Homo sapiens: one gene and its partner. The protein of the gene in region 1 purifies or fractionates together with the protein of each later gene. This does not show direct contact. Each region holds a gene or a part of one and is shown in the gene's direction. Other genes may lie near its edges.

The links. Proteins that work in one complex are often made in the same cells at the same time.
Region 2: the proteins of HMGN4 (region 1) and PAK1IP1 purify together in Homo sapiens (affinity purification with mass spectrometry; one large-scale study listed by BioGRID and IntAct). This does not show direct contact.

Annotation. Positions count from the first base shown.
Region 1 is NC_000006.12:26,541,227-26,544,415, forward strand, and holds part of HMGN4 (high mobility group nucleosome-binding domain-containing protein 4), read left to right. Parts: intron 1-3,189.
Region 2 is NC_000006.12:10,697,860-10,701,514, forward strand, and holds part of PAK1IP1 (p21-activated protein kinase-interacting protein 1), read left to right. Parts: intron 1-3,655. UniProt on the Homo sapiens protein: Negatively regulates the PAK1 kinase. PAK1 is a member of the PAK kinase family, which has been shown to play a positive role in the regulation of signaling pathways involving MAPK8 and RELA.

The DNA of each region.
Region 1 (3,189 bases):
GTAGAGATAGGGTTTCACCATGTTGGCCAGGCTGGTCTCGAACTTCTGACCACCTTGGCCTCCCAAAGTTCTGGGATTACAGGCGTGAGCCACCACGCCCTGCCTGAGTCACTAAATTCTTACACTGTTCCCTCCTATGTTAGTCCGCTAGGGCTGCCGAAACAAGGTACCACAGGCTGAGTGACTTAAACAACAAAAATTAATTTTCTTTGACTTCTGGAGGATAGAAGTCCAAGATCAAGATGTCGGCAGGTTTGGTTTCTTCTGAGGCCTCTCCTTGGCTTGCAGATGGCCACCTCCCACTACATCCTTAGATGTGTTCCTCTATGTTGTCTGTATCCTAATCTCCTCTTCCTATAAGTACACCAGTAATATTGAATTAGGGCCCACCCATAATACCCTATTTTGCTTTTTATTTCACTATTAGTTTTTTTTTTAAAGCTATTTTTGCCAGTTAATTTAAACATCATGATCTTCTTCTAATGATAAAAATGCAAGTCTTCATGCTAACAAAAGGATTGGAAGAAGGATGAAGCAGATGTTTCTTCTCCCCTACAGCAATCTGGTTAAATGAGGAGTTAAATTGAGAGCTTTCATGAGAATTTCAGTCCAGTTCTGTGCAATGAAGACGAGTGATTCAAAACTTTCACTAACTTGCTCTGTTGTTTGTAATATAATGTTATTGGAAGAGTTATTTTAACAAAGGGGAACTGTTATATTTCTAAAACTTTTAAAATTGTTGCCATGTCTTGGGAAAATAACTTCAGTATCTGTCTTGATAATTTCTTGCCCTGATGATACCATTGAAAGTCATTTCTCTATGTTTCCAAAAGTTGTACAATTACTAGTAAGATTTATCTGCCAGTTAATAATTTTTCTTTTCTTCCACATGCATGAAGGAGTATTTGTAATGACTTTTATATTTTATCATTAACATTATTTTTTTGAACTCTTAAAATGCGTATTTTTTTTTTACATTAATAGACTTCCTTTTTTCAGAGCAATTTTTGGTTTACAGAAAATTGAGCAGAAGATACAGAGTTCCCACATACTTCCTTTCCCCCACCTCAGTTTCTCCTAAGTTATTAACAACTTACACTGGTGTGGTACATTTGTTACAAATGATGAACTAATATTGATAGCTTATTATTAACTAAAATATATAGTTTACATCAGGGTTCACTCACTGTATGAAGTTCTGTGGGTTTTGTCAAGTGCATAACATCTACCATTTTATAATATATGCCATTACAGTAGCATACAAAAGAGTTTCATTTACCTAAAAATCTCTTCTGCGCCACCTCAAATAATTTCTTCTGAGTTAAAACCACTGTGTGGTGAGAGCTCCTTCCTTTTCCAACCTCCTTGTCCTTTATGGAAATGGTAAGAGCTTTTACCCATCTCTCTGGTCCCTTTTCATTATGTGTGTATCTGTCTCCCACATTTGTAAGGTCTCTAGAGAGTCAGTGACCTGGTCTCCTAATCAGCTTCCTAAAGGTGAGTTTCAAGAATTAAATCCGTATTTATATACTCAGATACAGCATCCAGGCAGTGGCCTATTTTTCCTGATTTTATTTTGTCACCTGCTGTATTTTGGCCTTTGACATGTGGAGATCATGGCCCCCCTACTTCGGATGGACTTCAATGGATCTAACTCGAAGAAGACTGAACCCAGGAAAAGAGACTGTGTGAGCATTCTCACACCAGGAAATGGGCTGAGAAACAATTTTGGAGTGAGATGGAAGGAGAATGGTATGGAGTATCTATTCTTAGGGAAATGTGTGCTAGGCCAAAATCTCACTTTTTGGTTAAACACTCTCATTCTCTGATAACATAAAGGCCTCTAAAAATATATGCAGAATATTTGGGGTAACCTTATTATTCATTGCCCAAGTTAGGTCACCTTTCAAAGTAAAAGGGAACATTATGAATAATTATACTAGGGCAACAGGTATAAATCAAGTCACCCTACCATTAGACCAAGTGATTTTCACTGGTTCCTTCATTGTAAGAGTAACTCCTTTTGTTTCCTAAAAATTGTTAAAATGATTCCTTAATGTTGCATTTGAAATAAAGGGAAAAAGACAAAAATTAGCAATAAATTCATGTAATGTCTAGGCAAGGATTTCTTCAGAAGAGAGCAGGTCAGGTGTAGTTAGATCAGTAGAACTGTATGTCTCAGTGGCACCATTACCTTTTTTTTTTTTTTTTTTGAAGCAGAGTCTCACTCTGTCCCCCAGGCTGGAGTGCAGTGGCACAATCTCGGCTCACTGCAACCTCCGCCTCCCAGGTTCAAGCAATTCTCAGGTGGATCACCTGATGTCAGGAGTTCGAGACTAGCCTGGCCAACACGGTGAAACCCTGTCTCTAGTAAAAATACAAAAATTGGCTGGGTATGGTGGCGTGCGCCTGTAATCCCAGCTACCCAGGAGGCTGAGGCAGGAGAATTGCTTGAACCCGGGAGGCAGAGGTTGCAGTGAGCCGAGATCGCACCACTGCACTCCAGCCTGGGTGACAGAACGAGACTCTGAGACTCTATCTCAAAAAAAAAAAAAAAAAAAAAAAAAAACTGGAGCAATTTGGAGACAAGATTAAAAAAATAATAATAACATTGTAGAATGGTGGCCACTCACAAGGTTACAGAATTTCCCAGTAAATGTTTTCAAGGGTGGGGCAGAAGGTATGATAGACAAAAGCTTTAAAAAAGTCACACAGTGCCCATGAATGCCAGCCCTAGGCCTAAGTCCTAATTACTCAAACTCAAACTATTTTCCATTTCCTACCTGTGTGGCTCTCAATCTGTGCTCTGGGCTACCCACATTTTTTAGTACTTTTATTAATTCTTGAGCAGACACATACAATTTTTCTGTGTAAGACATAGGTAATACTCCAGCCATGTGCTTCCCCTACAGTTTAAAGAAGAGAATGCAACCTCCCCCATCTCTGGACTAACCTCCATGCCTTCTCCAACTACATCCCTTTCCCAACTCCCAAGAGATGACCACTGTCCAATTTTTATTTATCCCTTTTTTTTTAAGTTTTACTATATGTTTGTGGCCTCAACATGTCATAGTTTTACATGTGTAAATGGATCTATAGTGTACATATTCTTCTGCAACTTGCTATTTTTCTTCGGCATTATATTCTTGAGATTCATCCTCGTTTTTGAACCTACCTGTAATCTATTTG
Region 2 (3,655 bases), about 16 Mb from region 1:
CAGCCTGGGCAACAGAGTGAGACTCTGTCTCAAAAAAAAAAAAAAAAGGTTTCTTGCTCTGGGTTGGCTTACGGTCTGTATTGGGAGACAGAAAGGAGGCATTTAACCCAGTCAGAGTGAGGTTTTCACTGAAACCTTCCTTAAAATGACATCTGAATTATCTTAAAAGAGAAATGTCAGTTATTGGGCAGGTAAAGTTTGCAAGGAGGGAGAAAGGACATTCCAGGCAGAGCCGGCAGTGTGAGGAGCACAAGTAGTAGCATCATAGCAATATCTGACTTTATTGAGGGCATATTATGTACCCCTCTGTGTGCCAAGAAAGTAGAAGAGAACACCTAGTTTCAAAGATGTAGCGTCACAGCAATATCTGACTTTATTGAGGGCATATTATGTACCCCTCTGTGTGCCAAGAAAGTAGAAGAGAACACCTAGTTTCAAAGATGTAGCGTCATAGCAATATCTGACTTTATTGAGGGCATATTATGTACCCCTCTGTGTGCCAAGAAAGTAGAAGAGAACACCTAGTTTCAAAGATGTTACTTGACTTGCCGAAGGTCTCAAACACTGGAACTAGAACTTGAACCTGGGCCTAGAGCCCATGCTTTTGACCACTGGTGTTCATAGGGAACCGTAAGCAGTTCCGGATTATGAGAAGGTTAAATTGGGAGTTTGAGGGGCTAGAGAAGTAGATGGGACCAGATCCTGGAGTCCTTGAGAGAGCCAGTTAGAGACTGAATTGGGAGGGAGGGAGGGAGCAAGCTAGCAAATGAATGATGTGGGCTTGAGGAAAGTACTGCCAGTTTGTATCGGAGGGGTGCTGACTGAGAACCCCAACAGAAGGACTGATGAAGGCCTGCCCCATTGGAATTGGCAGCTACGGATTGAGTAACATCAGTTTGCAAGATTTTCTGAGTTTATTCAGTAATAAGCCACAGACATTTCCCTAGAGAGAGGAAGGTTACTTGGTGTGTGCGGTAGAAGGATTGAGTTACAAGAGAATTAAGAATTTTGGTGAAGGAGTGGATTAGGTTGTCAACATAGAGAAAATGTGTTGTCAAAGGCCAGGCGCGGTGGCTCGCGCCTGTAATCCCAGCACTTTGGGAGGCCGAGGTGGGCCGAGCGTGAGGTCAGGAGATTGAGACCATCCTGGCTAACAAGGAGAAACCCCGTCTCTACGAAAAATACATAACCTTAGCTGGGCATGGTGGCACGTACCTGTAGTCCCAGCTACTTAGGAGGCTGAGGCAGGAGAATCGCTTGAACCTGGGGAGGCAGAGTGTGCAGTGAGCTGAGACTGTGCCACTGCACTCTAGCCTAGGCGACAGAGCGAGACTCTGTCTCAAAAAAAAAAAAAAAAAAAAAAGAGGAAAAGAAAAGAAAATGTGTTGTCAAGGGCCTGGAGATCTCTGAAATACAAAAGCAGGTGGAGTGTGAGTGCAGAGAGGCATGAAAGGGATGGGAAGATGTGAGCTTGTGGTCAGCAAATAGCTTCCTAGAGGTCAAGAGTTCTAACGTGGAACAGCTCTATGTGGTAACGATGCCCAGGCTGTGGGTGTAGGGGACTGAAATGCAGGGGAGGCAAAGGTCACTGGAGTTGAAGTCAAGAAGTAGTACTACAGTTCCCGGCTTGTGGTTTGGTTTTCCACACTGGTGGTCAAGGTACCCAGGATAGTGGCAGAATCAAGGGAGAGAAAGACTGAACAGGTAAATTTTTTTCTTCAGTACCAAACATTTTATGCTGTTTTTGTTGCATTTTCCCAGGGGACAGAGAATGAGGAGTAACTCAGCCAAGAAAGTTGGTTTTCTGCAAAGAAAGGCAGATAAAATGGTGCCCTTTTTCCTACCCAATCTTACATGTATTTCAGAGGATCCACACCAGGCATTGGTTTCCAGCAGTAAATTTGCAGCGATAAATGGCTTCCTTCTATTAGGTGTTCCCTTAGTTTATTCAGACTGCTATAACAAAATACCTTAGACTGAATAATTTATCAATAATAGAGATTTATTTCTCACAGTTGTAGAGGCTGGGAAGTCTAAGATTAAGGCACCAGCAGATTTTCTTGTCTCGTAAGGACTGGCTCTCTGTTGCTGTGTCCTCATGGTAGAAGGGCAAAGCAGATCCCTGCACAATTCTGTAAGGTCAAGCTTGAGAGTTGGAGCCAGTTTAAAAAAAGCAAACAAACAAACGAAAAAAACAACTTTTTTTTTGGCGGGGGCGGGGGGGCTTCTCGCTCTGTCACCCAGGCTGGAGTGCAGTGGCGCGATCTCGGCTCACTGCAGCTTCTGCCTCCTGGGTTTAAGCGATTCTCCTGCCTCAGCCTCCCAGGTAGCTTGGATTATAGGTGCCTGCCACCACGCCCAGCTAATTTTTGTATTTTTAGTAGAGACGGGTCTAACCATGTTGGCCAAGCTGGTCTTGAACTCTTGACCTCAAGTGATCCGCCCGCCTCAGCCTCCCAAAGTGCTGGGATTACAGGCGTGAGCCACCGCGCCCTGCCAAAAAAAACAACTTTTATAATGTCGCCAGTCCTCTAATCCCGTTCATGAGGGTTTGCCCTTATGACTTAGTCACCATCACCTCCTAAAGGTCTCACCTCTTAAACTATCACATTGGCAACTAAGTTTCAGCAAATGAATTTTGGGGGACACTTTCACACATGGCAGACTGTCCATTGCTGCTTTAACAGCTGTCTTGCTCTTCATCAGAAGCTGAGCTTTGAGTGATTCAAATATACATTCTTTTTTTCTCTATCTCCTAGTCCTAGTTTGTTACAAAGAAGGCTTCTCTCTCAGGTTTGGAAGAAATAAGTTAAATTTGATCTGCCCAAACCCATTAGTACAAGTGTTCAACAATAAGAAAAGGAATTACATAGAAGGAGTTTAGATTGGGGGGTGAATGAAGTAGGGCTCTTGGTTTCTTGGTTTCCTTTATTTCTTGTATAAATCCTTTTTTTCTTTTTTCTTTTTTTCCTTCAACTTTTAAGTTCAGGGGTACACATGCAGGATGTGCAGGTTTGTTACGTAGGTAAACGTCCCATGGTGGTTTGCTTTACAGATCATCCCATCACCTAGGTATTAAGCCCAGCATCCATTAGCTGTTCTTTCTAATGCTCTCCTTCCCGCAACCCTTCCCCTCCCACAGGCCCCAGTGTGTGTTGTTTTTCCCCTGTGTGAGAACATGTGGTGTTTGGTTTTCTTTTTCTTTTCTTTTCTATTTCTTTCTTTCCTTCTTTTTTGAGATGCAGTCTTTCTCTGTCACCCAGGCTGGAGTGCAGTGGCAGAGCTCGGCTCACTGCAACCTCCATCTCCCGGGTTCAAGCGATTCTTGTGCCTCAGCCTCCTGAGTAGCTGGGACTACAGGCACACACCACCACATCCAGCTAATTTTTGTATTTTCAGTAGAGACGGGGTTTCGCCATGTTGGCCAGGCTGGTATTGAACTCCTGACCTCAAGTGATCTGCCTGTCTCGGTCTCCCAAAGTGCTGGGATTACAGGCATGAGCCACCTCGCCTAGCCAGTGTTTAATTTTCTCTTCCTGCATTAGTTTGCTGGGGATAATGGCTTCCAACTCCATCCACATCCCTGCAAAGGACATGATCTCATTCCTTTTTATGGGTGCATAAATCCTATTTTTCTAAGAGTTGCTAATAGATA